Regions from separate parts of the Homo sapiens genome. Here region 2 is linked to region 1. The links come from fine-mapping of genetic effects on gene expression. Tissue or cell type: cerebellum. Region 1 holds a variant in brackets; the other region holds the start of a gene. All regions are shown on one strand. Distances are from middle to middle.

What was found. PIP is the estimated chance that this variant, and not a neighbour inherited with it, causes the effect.
Region 2: WDR55 starts here. The variant in region 1 is fine-mapped to the expression of WDR55 in cerebellum (GTEx, PIP above 0.99).

Annotation. Positions count from the first base shown.
Region 1 is chr5:141,251,769-141,259,952 of GRCh38, reverse strand. It overlaps the pseudogene LOC100419552. Among named protein-coding and RNA genes, the nearest start is that of PCDHB15, 10 kb to the right of the region's middle. The variant G/A (reference allele first, on the strand shown) is at 3,198.
Region 2 is chr5:140,661,799-140,669,982 of GRCh38, reverse strand. It overlaps WDR55 (WD repeat domain 55), which reads right to left and starts at 5,079. Exons shown (of 7, transcript NM_017706.5): 1 at 4,880-5,079; 2 at 1,649-1,749; 3 at 1,481-1,568; 4 at 1,192-1,371; 5 at 993-1,092; 6 at 735-904; 7 at 1-650. The coding sequence starts at 5,070. The coding sequence ends at 329. It overlaps IK (IK cytokine), which reads right to left. Exons shown (of 20, transcript NM_006083.4): 18 at 7,976-8,084; 19 at 7,770-7,804; 20 at 7,503-7,681. The coding sequence ends at 7,654. LOC124901088 (a long non-coding RNA gene) reads left to right here and starts at 4,546. Exons shown (of 2, transcript XR_007058968.1): 1 at 4,546-4,618; 2 at 4,826-7,572. RefSeq lists enhancers at 4,945-5,074, 5,425-5,584, 5,002-5,668.

The sequences.
Region 1 (8,184 bases):
TATCACATATGCCCTAAAGGATTAGGGGCAACTCAAGGTTTTTCTACATTTTTATGTTAATAAGATTTCTCTTCAGTGAGAGTTTTCACATGTTTTCTAAAAGATTAAAGAAAATTGAAAGCTTTTTCACATTTCTTATACTCATAAGGCTTATCTCCACTGTCTACTGTGAGTTCATTTTTTTTTTTTTTTTTTTTTGTGAGACGGAGTCTCGCTCTGTCACCCAGGCTGGAGTGCAGTGGCATGATCCTGGCTCACTACAACCTCTACCTCCTGGGTTCAAGCAATTCTCCTGTCTCAGCCTCCTGAGTAGCTGGGATTACAGGTGCACGTCACCACACCTGGCTAATTTTTGTATTTTTAGTAGAGATGGGGTTTCACCATATTGGTAAGGCTGGTCTTGAACTCCTAACCTCAGGTGATCTACCCGCCTTGGCCTCCCAAAGTGCTGGAATTACAGGCATGAGCCACCGTGCCCAGCCCACTGTGAGTTCTTACATGTACATCAATAAATGAAGAATGAACAAAGGCTTGCTTACATGTCTATTCATAGAATTCTTCTCCAGTGTGAAATTTTTCATGATTCCTAAAATACAAGGAACACATAAAGGATTCCCTCTATTCCTTACTTTGATAGGGTATGTGTTCAGTGTGTGATGCCATGTGTGTTTTTAACAAGTGAAAGATCAGTGAAGACTTTCTTGCATTCACTGAATTCACATAATTTCCCTGCAGCATGAGTTCTCTAGTGCACATTTAGATTTGAAATCTGGCTGAGATCTTTTCATGTTTATTACTCTCATTATATTTGTATCCAATTTGGAGTATTTTCTACAGAGTAGACATCAAGATCTTTTTGAGAGATTTTCAAATTTGATTATATTCATAGAGGTTTTCCACCATATGAATTCTCAAATATATGTCCTGTGTCTTGTGCTGATCCATCTATGTCATGGCAAAAGAATGAGGATTGCATAATTGGAGGTTTTTTATATTGTAACTTAAGTAGTATAATACTAATTGAAGGTAGACCATGATAAGAAAAGGCAGTATATTGTCATCCTTAGAAGAAATACTCCTGAAACTGTTGTAGCTAAAAATTCAAATAAGGATATAAAATGGAATATGAAAAATATTTAATCAAGTCAAAAGAAAACAGAAAATGAGGAACAAAGGATTTCAAAGGAAAACAGAAAATGGGGAACATAGGAATGAAAATGGAGGGTATGAATAAAATTGCAATAGAGACAATCATGTTATAAATAATTACATTACATATAAATGGAATAAACTCTCCAATTAAAAAGCAAACATATTAACACTGGATAAAATGCAAGATTTAATGCTATGTTGTTTTAAAAAGATGCTTTTTAAATATAAATACAGGTTGAAAGTAAAGAATGAAAAAATATATCATGCAAACCTTAAGCATAAGACATGTAGACTGACTATATTAATATCAGACAGAGTAACTAGAGACTAAATGAGACATTTTATAATAATGAGCGTCAGTTCATCAAGCAGCTATCCATTGTGCATGTAATAACAGAGCTTTAAAGTACATGAGATTAACAAATGATAGAACTGAAAATAAATAAAAAATTCACAACAAACATGCTGGAGAGGATGTGGAGAAAAAGGAACACTTTTACACTGTTAGTGGGAGTATAAACTAGTTCAACCATTGTGGAAGACAGTGTGGCTACTCCTCAAGGATCTAGAACTAGAAATACCATTTGACCCAGCGATCCCATTACTGGGCATATACCCAAAGGATTATAAATCATGCTACTATAAAGACACATGTATGTTTATTGCAGCACTATTTACAATAGCAAAAACTTGGAACCAACCCAAATGTCCATCAGTGATAGACTGGATTAAGAAAATGTGGCACATATACCCCATGGAAGACTATGCAGCCATAAAAAAGGATGAGTTCATGTCCTTTGCAGGGACATGGATGCAGCTGGAAACCATCAATCTGAGCAAACTATCACCAGGACAGAAAACCAAACACCGCATATTGTCACTCATAGGTGGGAATTGAACAATGAGAACACTTGGACACAGGGTGGGGAACATCACACACAGGGGCCTGTCATGGGGTGGGGGGCAGGGTGGGCATTGGGAGAAATATCTAATGTAAATGACGAGCTAATGGGTGTAGCAAACCAACATGGCACATGTATACCTATGTAACAAACTTGCATGTTGTGCACATGTACCCTATAACTTAAAGTATAATTAAAAAATAAAAACTCACAATCACAGGTGAAGAATTTAACACTCTTCTCCTAATAACTGGCAGAACATGTAGAAACAATGTTAAGAATAAAGAAGATCTAAAAACATTATCAAGTGACTTGATTTAATTGATATTTACAGAATACTCAACCAACAACTGTAGGTTACACATTTCTTTCAAGTACACATGGGGAACTCACCATGGTAACTTACATGCTGAATAATTTTTAATGACTTCATAAATCTCAAAGGGTTGAAATTTTACAGAGTATGCTCCAAGACCAAAAAATAATTATTTTGGAAATCAAAAATGTTACCTTTGGATAGTTGGAAATTAAGCAACACGATTATAGTCAAGCAATGGATCAAAGAAGAATAGTACAAACTGAATGGCAATAAAAACACAAACTAGTCAAGTTCATGAAATGCAACTTAAGTAATATACAGGAAGAAATTTATAACTTCATATTTTTATATATTTTCAAGTGTGTTAGAAAAGAAAGGCTTAGAATCAATGATCTGAGCTTTCAGAGAAGCTAGAAAAAGAGAAAACTAAACTCAAAATACATAGAATAAAAGAAATAAAAACAGAATAGCAGAAATCAATAAAATAGGAAACAAAAAGGAGTCTAGAAAAGGTAGCTCACACGTGTAATCCCAGCATTTTTGAAGGTTGAGGTGGGAGGATTGCTTAAGCTCAGAAGTTTGAGGCCAACTTAGGCAACATAGTGAGGCACTGTCTCTACAAAAATAAAAATAAAAATAATTAGCTGGATTTGATGGCATGCACCTGTAGTCCTAGCTGTTCACGAGGTTGAGGCAGGAGGATCTCTCTTTCTCTCTTTTGTGTGTGTGTGTGTGTGAGTGATGGAATTTTGCTGTTTCGCACAGGCTGGAGTGAAGTGGCGCGATCTTGGCTTACTGCAACCTCTGACCCCCGGGGTTCAAGC[G/A]ATTCTCCTGCCTCAGCCTCCCTAGTAGCTGGGATTACAGGTGCCCGCCACCATGCCTGGCTAATTTTTGTAGAGATGGAGTTTCACCATGTTTGCCAGGCTGGTCTCAAACTCCTGACCTCAGGTAATCCATCTGCCTGGGCCTCCCAAAGTGCTAGGATTACAGGTGTGAGCCACCATGCCTAGCCTTAGGAGGGTCTCTTGAGGCTAGCAGTTTGATGTCACAGTGAGCTATATCGCATCACTGCACTCCAGCCTTTTTTTCTCTGAGAAAAGGAAGAAAACAGAAAGTAATAGGAAAAGTAGTGAAACCAATGATTGTCTTGTTTTTCAAAATTAACAAAATTGGTACATTGACAGAAATACCAATAAAGACAAAAAGAGGGAAAACATAAATTACCAATATCCATAGTGAAAGGGGGAGGGCCTCACTGCAGATTCTAAATATATTGAAAGATGAGAAAGAAATAGTATCAATAGCTTCATGAAAATAACTTCAACATCTTTGATAAAATAGACAAATTTGCTTAAAAAACACAAGCTGCCAGCTGCCGACAGAAGAGGAAACAGAAAATTAGAATTGCAGCATATTTATTTAAGAAATTGAGTGTGCAATTCAAAATCTTCCCACAAAGAAAATGTCATTCATGGTTGGGTTCTGCAGTAAATTCTATCAAATACATAAAGTAGAAATAATAACTATCTTACATAAACTCTTTCATAAAAGAAGAAGTGGAGGAAACAATTGGCAAGTCATTTGATGAGACCAGGAGAACCCTGAAACTAAATCCTGACAAGGGTATTACAAGAAAAAAAATTGTAGATCAACATCTCTCATGAATATAGATGCACAAATTCTCAACAAAATTAGCACACTGACTTGGCTGCATGTCACCTGGAAGAAAAACTTACAAACAATTTTCCTAGACAATCATGATCACACAGGTGCTGTTCCATTCCCACTCTGCATGACTCCAGCTCATGAGATCTGCTTGGATGTCTTTGGATTCTTCCATCATTGCCCCTGCCACTCCATATTTGGAATAGGACTTGCTTCAGATTTCTTTGCTTGAATTCCAATTGTAGCCATCACTGTTACCATAGTAACATTTGAACTTGCAAGTTGGAAACAACGAACAACTGGGACAAGGGCAAAGCAAGTAACTCAGATGCAAATTTTAAGTCATTATCCCAAAACTTGGAGATAAATACTATTTGTTACAATATTGTAAAAATTAAAATTTAATGTAAACACCCATGAGAAACAAAATATGAAATTTTAAGTGAGGACAGGAACCACCCTGCCCTTGCACACATTTGCCACACTGACCTCACCCTCATCCTGTCAGATCCTATTGTCAACTTTATTGTTTCCTGATCTCACTGGGGGAAAATTTACCATGTCTACTTCACAGCTCCTTCTCCTAGGCTACTCCTTCAAGGCCAAAAAGGTCACGAAAATTCTAAATTCAATAATGTTGGGATTGTTCCATTTGCAAGAAATAACTTCCTTTCATTTGAAAATATAAACTCTTCTACAATACATTGCTAACACCAACTTTATTAAATACATTCATAGATTAAAGAAAAAATCTTAATGTGGAAAAGTTTTGGAAAAGCAATGTTATTCTGGTATTTATCTCTGCATTTTATTGCCACTGTCTACTAAAGCCACCCACCAGAGACACACACATATACAGGCACAAATGCACACACACAAATACACAAACCACTATGGGGTTTTGTGTATTTGTAGCTATAGATTTCTAAAATTGTTTGAGGCATCATCATTTATGTATCATGATAGATTTTTCTCGACTTTTTGGTGACTATGCTGATAAATGGAAGTAATGCTCTTCTCAAGGTATTCCAGATCAGTCTAAGAAAGACAAAATTATTAATCCTTTAGAGATGCCTTTAAATTCTAGACTTTACCCATAAAACATTTGTAAATTAAGATACAAAGGAAGTAGTACACATTCGGATCTCTGGGCCTGTTTCAAAACATGCATTTCTATATGTAAGAAGTTTGTCAGGAATTAATCAAATATGTTTTTTGGAAAAGGTAAGAGAAAGACCAAATCTAAAAGTAGTAGTAATGAGCTTTCTTCTCTCATTTGGTATACAACTTAATATTATCTTGAAAATGACCATCATTGCCACAAGTGACAGGGACTACTAATGATTGGGTACTAATGGTAATAACCTAGAGGAAATGGCATTTGCTGTTCTCCAGCCATTAATATTCATAATGGGGGCTGTAAATATGGTGCCAACTTCTGAAAGTCCTAGAATTCACGAGAATTTTTAATTTTTTTATGACTATGCTGATAACCAGAAGTAATGCAGTTATCAAAAGCCCCAGTCAGTTAGATAATGATTACTGCAGTCAGAAACATAGAAAGGTCAAGAACAAATTCATGTATTTAAGTCATTTTGCTATTACATCTCTTCCTTTGACATATCATTAAGGGGGCATCTAGGTGTGTAAGAAAAAATCCACTTAAAAAGATGCTAATAGCTACTGTGCTAGCTAAAATGAATGTTCTGCAGAAAATTTTGATGAAGAAATAGATGTCACAGGCCTCACTGATTTTAATTCCCATTTTAAGAGGAACCACCCTCAATTGCCACCACTCCAGATAGTCTACTTTGCCCTTCCTACTGGGCATCAGTTTTCTTTAGTGAGCTGAGCAGTATACTGAAATTCAGCATCAATGTTGAGTTGCCATTGTCACCTATGACCATTCCACAGACAAATGCCTGGATGTTCAAAGTAATTGAGCTGCCATCTATCTGTTGCCCTGATTGTGAAGTAAAATTTCTTTAATATTTGCAGACACATAAAATACAAGAATTATGAAGAAAATGTTCACTGTGATTCCCTTAATTTCTAATCATTGGTGTTGGTGAATACTGACACATGCAGATATGTGTTTGCCTCCCCTTTTCCAGGGAGTGCATATATCTCCACCCCATTGGACTCTTGTAAAACAAATGGGAGCAGTCATATTATTAAACCAAAAAACACAAATCTCCTGCTTCCTAGCCCTAGTTTGGAATTGATATCAGCCCACCAGTATTTCCAAACTTGGTACCAGAAAAGGCATGAGTCAACTTATAATAGTTATAAAATAACTTTTAGGCTCTTGAAATATAAGCGCATTTTTCTCCATGTAAAGGAAGCTGGTCTGCAGTAAAAGGGAATGAAACCAGCAGGATAGAAAAAATGGTCAAGTCCTTGTTTCTAATTGTTATGGCCCTACCTTTCAATCAGTTTTATTTCCAAACATATCCTAAATTACTTTATATACCCTAATATCTTCTCAATAAATTCTGTATTTTATCTTGAGAGCTAATTTGAATTGGGTTTCTGTTGATTAATACTAAAAGAATTTAGACTAACAGAAGTATTAATTTGGCAAAAGATCTTCCTGGTTAGTACATTTTCTGTTACTATGAATTATGAATTTCTAAAAGTCATTTTCAATGCAGAATATAAGAGATATGTAGAAGAGCATACACTTTTCAAACATGATTCTGAATGTTGATGGCAGTAGTGACAATTTGAGGAGTAACATGTAGGGACAGGCTAGTTGAGTGACACAAGATTCCTTCAAGGAGCATGCTCAGGAATATCTTTAACCTCCATTCTTTGGATCTGGAAAATGTGGAATGCCTGACTTCCCTGGCATGGATCAGACTTTTAACAATGATCAGATGAAAATTTCTGGTCAGAAAGAGAACTTGGAACAGAATTTGGTCAAAGTATTTCATATGCCTTTTTATTTCATGTCAAATGTAATATCCAAACAATGTTGAGGTATTTCCAGAACTGCCTATTTGGACATTTAAAATCTTTTGAATATTCTTAGTTCTTGGCCCGCTCATTCACATTTGAGAGCACATGACACAAGAGGGTTCCCATAGCCTCCCACAGGTAAAACTTCTGCAGTGACTTCCAGGCTACTGATTCAGCAATAGAGACAATATTCTGATTTTTTTTTATTACATTTCCCAGGATAAAGCCTGCAGGGTTTTGCCCAGATTACATTTCTGTTCATGGAGTATTCCAGTGAGGCCTCTATCTGAGTTAGATTTTCATTAAACATCACCAAAGTGAACTCTCATTGAATGCTATTTGGCTTTGCTTGGGAAAAAAGACACAAGCCTCTCCCTTAATAGATTGGAAATACGTATGAAATGAGCTTGCTATATTAGAGCCTATATTCTATCGATTTTACAGGAAAGGAATCCATTTTTACAGGAATAGGCATTGGATTAACAAAAAATATTCATTATGTTTATGTTTCCTTTGTTCTTTTGTGAAGAAAATACATCATCACAGTGTTTATCTAAGATTATAAAACCCTTAGGGGATTATCCCAAAGATAACTCATAACACTCCATTACGACTTCAAAATATCCAGAGAGACCTCTGCTAGTACCACCAAGCTTTCAACTTTTAAGGAAATCTTTTCTAAAAATTCAGCCATCAGCCAAAAGGGATAATTTTATATACATTTAAATAGTCATATTAACTAAATTGTCTAAAATTATACATAATTTCCATGTTTACAGTAATCAAACTAGAAATAGAAGTTCCATGTTGCTCTTTTAAGTAGTGGTTTGGAGGATAGTGAAGAGACACTGCAGCTTATTTTTATTATACCAAAAATATAGCTAATGGGTTTCTCAGAAAACTGTTGCTCCCATTTAAATTCATTTGTGGAAGAAATTAAAATTCTTCTCCACTTTCCAATTGTTGGAATAAGGTAGCTCCCACCTTGTGAATGCTGTCATATGACCACAACTACCTATGTATTCCAATTGCCATTTAGGAAGAAAATAAAAGCAAGGAAGGGAAATAAAGCAAGACGGTCAATGGCCTTAGATTAACATCATAAAAGGCAAGGTGAGACTTACAGAAATCTCAAAAGAAGTCTACAAAATCTGAAAGAGAAAATAGGTAAAATGAATGGCTCTG
Region 2 (8,184 bases), 590 kb after region 1:
CAGAGGCAGGTGGATCATTTGAGTCCAGGAGTTGAAGACCAGCCTGGGCAAAACAGACCCGTTTCTACCAAAAAAAAAAAACAAAAATTGGCCTGGTGTGGTAGTGCACACCTGTAGTCCCAGCTGCTCCAGAGGCTAAGGTGGAAGGACAATCTGAGCCTGGGGACATTGAGGCTGCAGTGAGCCAAGATCAAGCCAGCGCACTCCAGCCTGGACGATGGCAAAACCCTGTCTTTTCAAAAAATAATTCATATCCTCTCTGGGGATGCAGCCCAATAAGCAAGACTCTTGCCTGGTGAGGACCCGTCTCAAGATTCAATTCATTCCTTCAGTCACTGTCATCCCCAGTCTCCTCCTTTTCTTCCTGAGCCATGGAGTCTTCTCCCTCTTCCCTCAGTCCTGCGAAGAAGTCATCGGTGCTCCAAGTCTTGCTGCTCAGAGCCCGCAGTGGTCCTCCCTTTTTTTTGCGCCGACGGTAGTCATCCACCACCACAGCTCGCAGCTGGGCCATGTCCCAAAACTTGAGGCGCTGGTCATGGCCACTACTGGCCAGGAAGCGGCCACAGTGGGAGAGGGCCAGCTCCTCCACAGGCTCCCCAGTGTGCTGGCCCACACTGCCCACCACTCGGTTCGGTAGGATGTTCACAGCCCTGGGCAGGGAAAGAACAGTGTTGAGTACTGGCTAGCTGGGTCTGCCCTTCCTGTGACCTAAGGGCTGTCCAGGCTTCCCTCACCTGATGACTCCATCAGTGGAGCCAGTACACAGCAGACTCTCGGTGACTGGAACCATGCAGTCGATAGATTCAGCTCTCAGGGCAAAGCGGTCACTTGTGGCCCCAAAGCCATTCCAATTGAAGAGGTAGATGGTACCTTCACTGGAGCCACAGGCTACCTTCTTCCCCCACTGCAGGGAAATAGAGAAAACAATGTGGAAGCTGCCTCAGACTAAGCCCCCAGCACACACCCCTCCATCCCACCATAACCAGCTGTACTTTCATGAGAGTGACAGAGGTCAGGTCCCCAGACTGAGGTTCTGAGAGCAGCTCAAACCGACGCCTCTTAATGTTGAAGATGCCAAGGCAGCCATCCCCGCTGTAGAGAGTAGAGCAGTAGGCTTAGACGCAAGGTCTATTTGAGGAAGACATTTCACACAGGGAGGGGAGGGGAGGCAAGGCAGCTTTGAAGTTGTACCTGGCTGTCAGCAGCAGCTTTTTGGCTGGATCCAGAGCCATGTCTGCGATGTACTCTTCATGTTGCCTCATATCCATTAAGGGGCCCTCCTTCCGCTGGTCCCAGAGACAGATACCACCTGTGTCATCCCCAGTGGCCAGAACATTCTCATCCACCAGCAGAAGACTATTGATGGGGGCACTAGAGACACAGATGTAGAACTTCTTGGAGCATCTCTGTCCCAGTGGGGACCTCCTGGTCCTTACCCTTCACCTCCATGCACATACACAGAATTGGCTGCTCTCCTTACCCATGAGCCTTGGAAACACGTCTTTCCAGTTGGCCCTGCTCCACATCTAGAACATGGATGGCTTTGTCCTTGGAGACAGTAATGAGCTCTGGGGAAAAGGTGCCCAGGTCATGGTGCTGCTCACTGCTCCCTTCCACCACATTGCTGGTTGTCTTCCCCAGTACTCACTCTGCCCATCTTCAGAGAAGGCCACAGCTCGGCAGGCCTTGAGATGGTGACCTGATGACCAGAGCTCCTTGGTTTCTCCCTCTTGGCAAGAGTAGGAAAAGCTGGGGAGAGGGCAAGGAGGGTAAATGACTCCAGACCCAGCCTGGGTTGCATTGAGTGCAGAGACCAACTAGACAGAGCAGCCTTCCCACCTACCTAAGAGTTCCTGCTTCTACACCTCTAAGCCCAAAAAGTTTACCATCTCATTTCTCCATTTTCAGTGAGTTTGAAATGTTAGGTCCTGCTTTTTTCAATATATGTTAGTTCAAGGTATATTTGCGCAAGATTTCTTTGTGATCCCACCCAACCCCTCTTTATCATCTTTGAAAGCCCCAGCCTGGACAAAGATTGGGTCTGGACCACTGTGGAGGAGATATTTGTTACATCAATGACAAAAGACCAGCCCCAGAAGTTAGAAATCTAAAAATCAGTAAGGTAGAGCAGGCTCTTGCACTTCAGGTCTGCAGGAGCTAGAGAAAGCCACAATTAATTACAGTACATTGAGAGTACGTGCTGAAAAAGAGGCAAGATCAAAATGGAGGTGGGGGAGAGGCACCAGCCTGTAAACAACTTTGAGGTGAGTACTGTTTATGGAATACCCCCAAGTGCCTGCCTCAGAGCAGATCCTCAAAAAGGGCAGAATGAATACATGCTTAATTGCCAGTGAGTTCCAGGTAGGCAGAACTGAGCCTGCTCATTTTCTCTATCCCAGTGCTGAACGTGAAAAAGTAGCTTAATAAACATTCACAAATTGAATGAATACTTGGGAAGGGAGAAGAGAGCCCTGGAAAGCTAAGGTGGTGACATGTGGGTTGGATCATACAAGAGTAGAATTTGCCTGGCAGAGAGCAAGGGCCAGATACTGGAGGCAGCAGAGATAAGGAATGAGGAGGGTTCCTTGTAGCAGGAGAGTAGCATGACTGAATCTAGAAAGATGGGCTGGGGTGGGCATGAGACCACATGAGCCAAGCAGAAGTTTGAATTTAATCCTCGGAAAAGGAACCTTTTCACAATAGTCATGGCTGAGGGTGGGGAAGGGGAGAACCAAGAATTTTCCTCCAGAACCTTTTTTAAGACAAGGGAAGCAACAAAGTTGTGTGGAATGTGAAGAAAGGTGGATGTCTAGGGCAACTCCCAAGTGCCTGGCACCATAAATATGGATAGTAGTAGAAGGGAACCTACATTTGTTGAAGAGCTGCTTAGGTGCTGTACTGCAAACTTGTCCCCTCTGCAAGGGTAGGTATAATTCCCCCTTTCAAAGATGAAAATACAGAAGTTAACACGCTCAAGGCCATTACAGCTAATGAGGGGTTGAGGTTTAAATTCATTAAGTAAATCTGATAAGCATAACATCTTCAACTTTTCCACTGCCTCTAACCTGTATCTTTTGTTCAAAATCAAACATGTGTTGAGCATCTACCCTAGACTAGAGGTTGGAGATAAAATAGAGAACAAAACCGATGACAGATTACACTCCAGAACAGTGTTTTTTCACATTCTAGTCATATAACGGACTAGTAAGCTACGATCAGCATTTTGTGTACATGTACACAATAATAGAATAAAATCAGCAATTGTATCACAGAGCATCATATATAATGTAAAAGGTATTTCTCTGTGAGGCAAGGTCAAAGACGTTTGAAAAACATTAGTGAAGGAGACAGCATTCAAATAATTACACAAATGGACATATGGTTACCAACCATTCATTATTAAGGGAAAGGTACCATGGCACCTGGTGCCATGGCAGCATCTAACAGGTAACCAATTTTAGTCTGGGGAGAGAGGAAGAGGGAAGAGATCCTGGAAACTCAGAGATAGTAGGTAAAAGTGAGGGGAAAGGAGTTTTCCGGACAGAATAGCACATGCAAATGGGCTGAGGTTTCGAGATTTTTTTTTGAGATGGAGTTTTGCTCTTGTTGCCCAGGCTGGAGTGCAATGGCACGATCTCGGCTCACTGCCACCTCCACCTCCCAGGTTCAAGCGATTCTCCTGCCTCAGCCTCCCGAGAAGCTGGGATTACAGGTGCCCGCCACCACACCCAGCTAATTTTTCTATTTTTAGTAGAGACAGGATTTCACCATGTTGGCCAGGCTGGTCTCCAACTCCTGACCTCAGGTGATACCCCACCTTGGTCTCCCAAAGTGCTGGGATTACAGGCATGAGCCACCACGCCCGGCCCAAGACGTATTTTTAAAAGGTATGGATGAATGAGCACAGATGGTCAGGGCGTTGAAGGCAGGATTGAGAAATTTGTACTAAATCCTAAAAGCAGACCATTGAAGGGTTTTAATCAAGGGAGTGTCTCACTCTATTGTCCAAGCTGGAGTGCAGTGGCACGATCTTGGCTCACTGCAACCTCCACCGCCCGAATCCAAGTGATTCTTCTGCCTCAGCCTCCCGTGTAGCTGGGATTACAGGCCCGCGCCACCACACCGGGCTAATTTTTGTATTTTTAGTAGAGACGGGGTTTCACCATGTTGAACAGGCTGGTCTCGAGCTCCAACCTCAGGTGACCCGCCCACCTCGGCCTCCCAAAGTGCGGGTATTACAGGCGTGAGCCAAGATTTGTGGTTTGAAAAATCACTTAAAGGGGCCTGCTGAGCCTGTCTCGGGCACAATATAATAATCCGGTAGGAGTCCGGGCACGGTGGTTTACGCCTGTAATCCCAGCACTCTGGGAGGAAGGCAGGTGGATCACGAGGTCAGGAGTTCAAGACCAGCCTGGCCAAGATGGTGAAACCCCGTCTCTACTACAAATACAAAAAAAATTAGCCGGGCGTGGTGGCGGGCGCTTATAATCCCAGCTACTCGGGAGGCTGAGGAAGAGAACTGCTTGAACCCGGAAGGGGGAGGTTGCAGTGAGCCCAGATCGCGCCACTGCACTCCAGCCTCGGCGACAGAGCGAGACTCCGTCTCAAAAATAAATAGGTAAGTAAATAAATAATAATCGGTGGGAAATAACAAGGCCTTAAAGGGCTTTTTGGCCTACTACGGTATCTGGGCTCTGTCACGACATTCCAGTTCTTTCAACAGATTGGTGTGATAGAAGAGCCGAATGTTACTGAATAAATTGGACCCAAAGAATCTTGCAAAATTTGTCTCCCTGCAACTTTCTCTCATCTCTCCTGTTCCCAGGTCCACCCCCGGGAAGCTTCCAGACCCGGCGCCCCGGCCCTGCCCCGCTCTCACACGAACACGTCCCCGTCCACGTCCCCTGCAGCCAGTAGGTCACGGGCCGGATGGAACGCCAGCCCACTAGCCGGAGCTTCCAGCACGATGTCTTCCGGAGTGTCCCGGATCCGGGTTGGGGCTTCCATGGAGTCTGGGTCCTCCTCGTCGCTCCCATCCTCAGCGGGCCTCTCCTCACAAGTGCGGTCCATGCTGAGAAGGACTGCGAGCCGCGCCGCCGCAGGGTAGTCAGCCTCGGAACCACCCACACTGCGGGAGGAGTAGCCTGGCACTCCGCTTCCGCCTCGGGGGGCGGGGCCGGAAGTGTCTCCGGGACGTTCTTCCTCTTACAGGAGAGGTGGGTGGGCCGCTGCTGGTGCGGGTGGAGCGGAGCGAAGAGACCGCATCTGGGAGATCGGCTACTTCCTTGTCCTGCTGTGACCCCGTTTGGGCTAGGTAGACGGTGCGACCGTCAATTCCCTCCCTAGTCACGTCACGTAAAGTTGAGAACTGCGTGTAAATCTTTCCTCTCCTACTTCATCCAGACAGGCTTAATGCCCTTGGGATAGGAGAGAGGGACGCTAGTCCTTCGTGGCTTGGTGAAACCCAAGATCAAGTCAAGCGACAGCCTGGGCTGTCAGGAAGCCGCAAAATCCCACGCTGCGCGATGACATACGGGAGTCTGGGACAGCAGGCAGCTCAAGCAGCTGGTGTCCACGCCCCTAACGTCTTTGTGGCCAGTTTGCTGTGCCAGTTCCTACAATTTGTCTACAGAAACTCAATGGGCTGGACAAGCAGTGCTCAGTTACCAAGAATTTTTTTTTCTTTTTTGTTTTGCTTTGTTTTGAGACAGGGTCTTGCGCTGTCGCGCAGGCTGGAGTGCAGTGGCACGATCACCGCTCGGCTCAAGCGATCCTCCGAGTAGCTGGAACTACAGGCACGCGGCACCACGCCTGGCTAATTTTTATTTATTTATTGAGACGGAGTCTCGCCCTGGCTGGAGTGCAATGGTGCGATCTCGGCTCACTGCAACCTCCGTCTCCCGGGTTCAAGAGATTTTCCTGCCTCAGCCTACCGAGTAGATGGGACTAGAGGCGCATGCCACCACGCCCAGCTAATTTTTTGTATCTTTAGTAGAAACAGGGTTTCACCATGTTGGCCAGGCTGGTCTCAAACTCCTGACCTCGTGATCCGCCCGCCTTGGCCTCCCAAAGTGCTGGGACTACAGGCGTGAGCCACCGCACCTGGCCAATTTTTGTATATTTTGTAGAAACGAGGACTCAGTATGTTGCCCAGGCTGGCCTTGAACTCTTGACGTGTCTTCCCACCTCAGCCTCCCAAAGTGCTAGGATTATAGGCGTGAGCCACGGCGCCCAGCCCCTGAATTTCTTTTTTTAAATCAAGGTCTTGCTCTGTCACCCAGGCTCAGAATGCAGTGGTGTGATCATAGCTCACTACAGCCTTGAACTCTTCGGTTCGATCCTCCTGCATAGCTATAGACTCATGAACTCCTGGCCTCAAGAGACTCTCCTGCTTTGGCCTCCCAAAGCACTGAGACTGTGGGCATGAGCCATCGAGCCTGGCCTCAGAAACTGAATTTCAAACCCACAATCTCCAGGTCTTGCTTTTAGTGACTCTCCAGATGTCTTCACCTGTGCCATGTCTCTGTGACCATTTTTAATAATTGGGACTGCCTACCTACATCCATAGAACCATGGTGTCATTTGTCTGAAATTAGCCATTCTAGGTGCTATTGCAGCAAGGCCCAATTTCAGCCTCTTACATGCCATGCACAATACTGGCTTCCTCACAAAAACCTGTCCTACCAAGGTGAATATAATCAAAGACAAGGTAATGGCTAAGGTGACTTTCTAGCTTTCTTGGATCTGGTGAGGCCACAAATCTTGGGCTCAGGGTAGACAGTGGCAGCGTGGCATCCAGCCAGGAAGCAGTAGTGACACCTAATGATGAGCACCAGGCCAAAGTGCTGGTAATGAGCAGAAGGGAAGAAAAGGGAAGGGAATGGTGTGATTCAAAGGTCAACAGACCTATTCTGGGCCTTGGCAAATGTTTCAGGGTGATGAAGGGCACCAAACCCTTCTGGTCTAGGATAGGAATTCCTGTACCTGCAGGGCCACACTATATCAGCTCTAAACCCAAAGCACTTCCCTAAGGTTACACCTTTAGCCAAGGAGACAGTGATTTGTACTCAACATTAATAAAGCTCATAGTACATAAACTCATAAAAGGTTTTGGTTCCCACCCATAAGTGATTTTCATTAGATGCCTTCATCCAGAGCCCAGTCCTTCATAGCCTGGAGATCAGATTAGCAGCCCATCAGGCTGACAGCAATCCCCAGGAAATCTTTCCCCAGGGACTAGGCCTGAAGATGGGCCGGAATGAGTCTGACATTTGAGACCAATCATACTTACATTCCTCTATCCACCTCTTGCCCATCAGTGAGGATCATTATTCTCTTCTCTACTGGGCACACTGGCTAGAGAGCATCCTTACTGTCTAGGAATCTAGAACCACAGCTCAGGAAAGGACTGATGACTTTCTGCATGTGATTTTACACAACCAGTGGAATTAGTGTTCTTGGTGCTTCAAGGGCACTGGAGGGGACATGCTCAACAAAGAAAATAGCAAGTTAACCAATTTTAATGGAACCAAGTAATTACACAATAAAATTTTATATTCATCCACAAAAAAACATCTTGCAACCTTTGGAAATTGTAGAAAGAAAACAGTGGGGAGCATATCCTTGTGGAGCATCTCTGGTTGTAACTAGTGATTAGTATTTTGGTCTTTTGACTTCAACCCTGCAATGGAAGGAGAAATGGGTCAGTATAAGATCAATACACTAAGCAATTCCCACCAGTCCCACAGAGGAAGAATAATGCCGCTCACCCATCAGCTTCCATCTTCTTCCTCTTCTCAATGATCTGCAAAAACAACAGGATAGTCTATCACCAAGCTGCCCATCTAAGCTCACCTGAGGCCCAAGGCTGACCTCTCATTTCCATGGCTCTCCAGCCCCTTGCCTGTTCCTGAATCTGCAGGCTAATGTCTTCTCCCAGCTGAAACCCTCCCACCCAAGGGGCCATCCTACTTACTGCACTAATCTTCTTCCACTGGCGATCAAGCTCTGCTTTGTCATTGGTTTCCTTGAAGCGCCTGGTTTTCCGCCCTTCAGACATTTTGATACCATACTGGAATGCAGCCCTGAAAAAAGCAGTTGGGAAAGAATGCATCAGAGATTGCATAGCAGTGGCGAGGTTTTCCCAGAGTCCTGTGGGCAAAGAACTTAGTGGGGAACATCTCA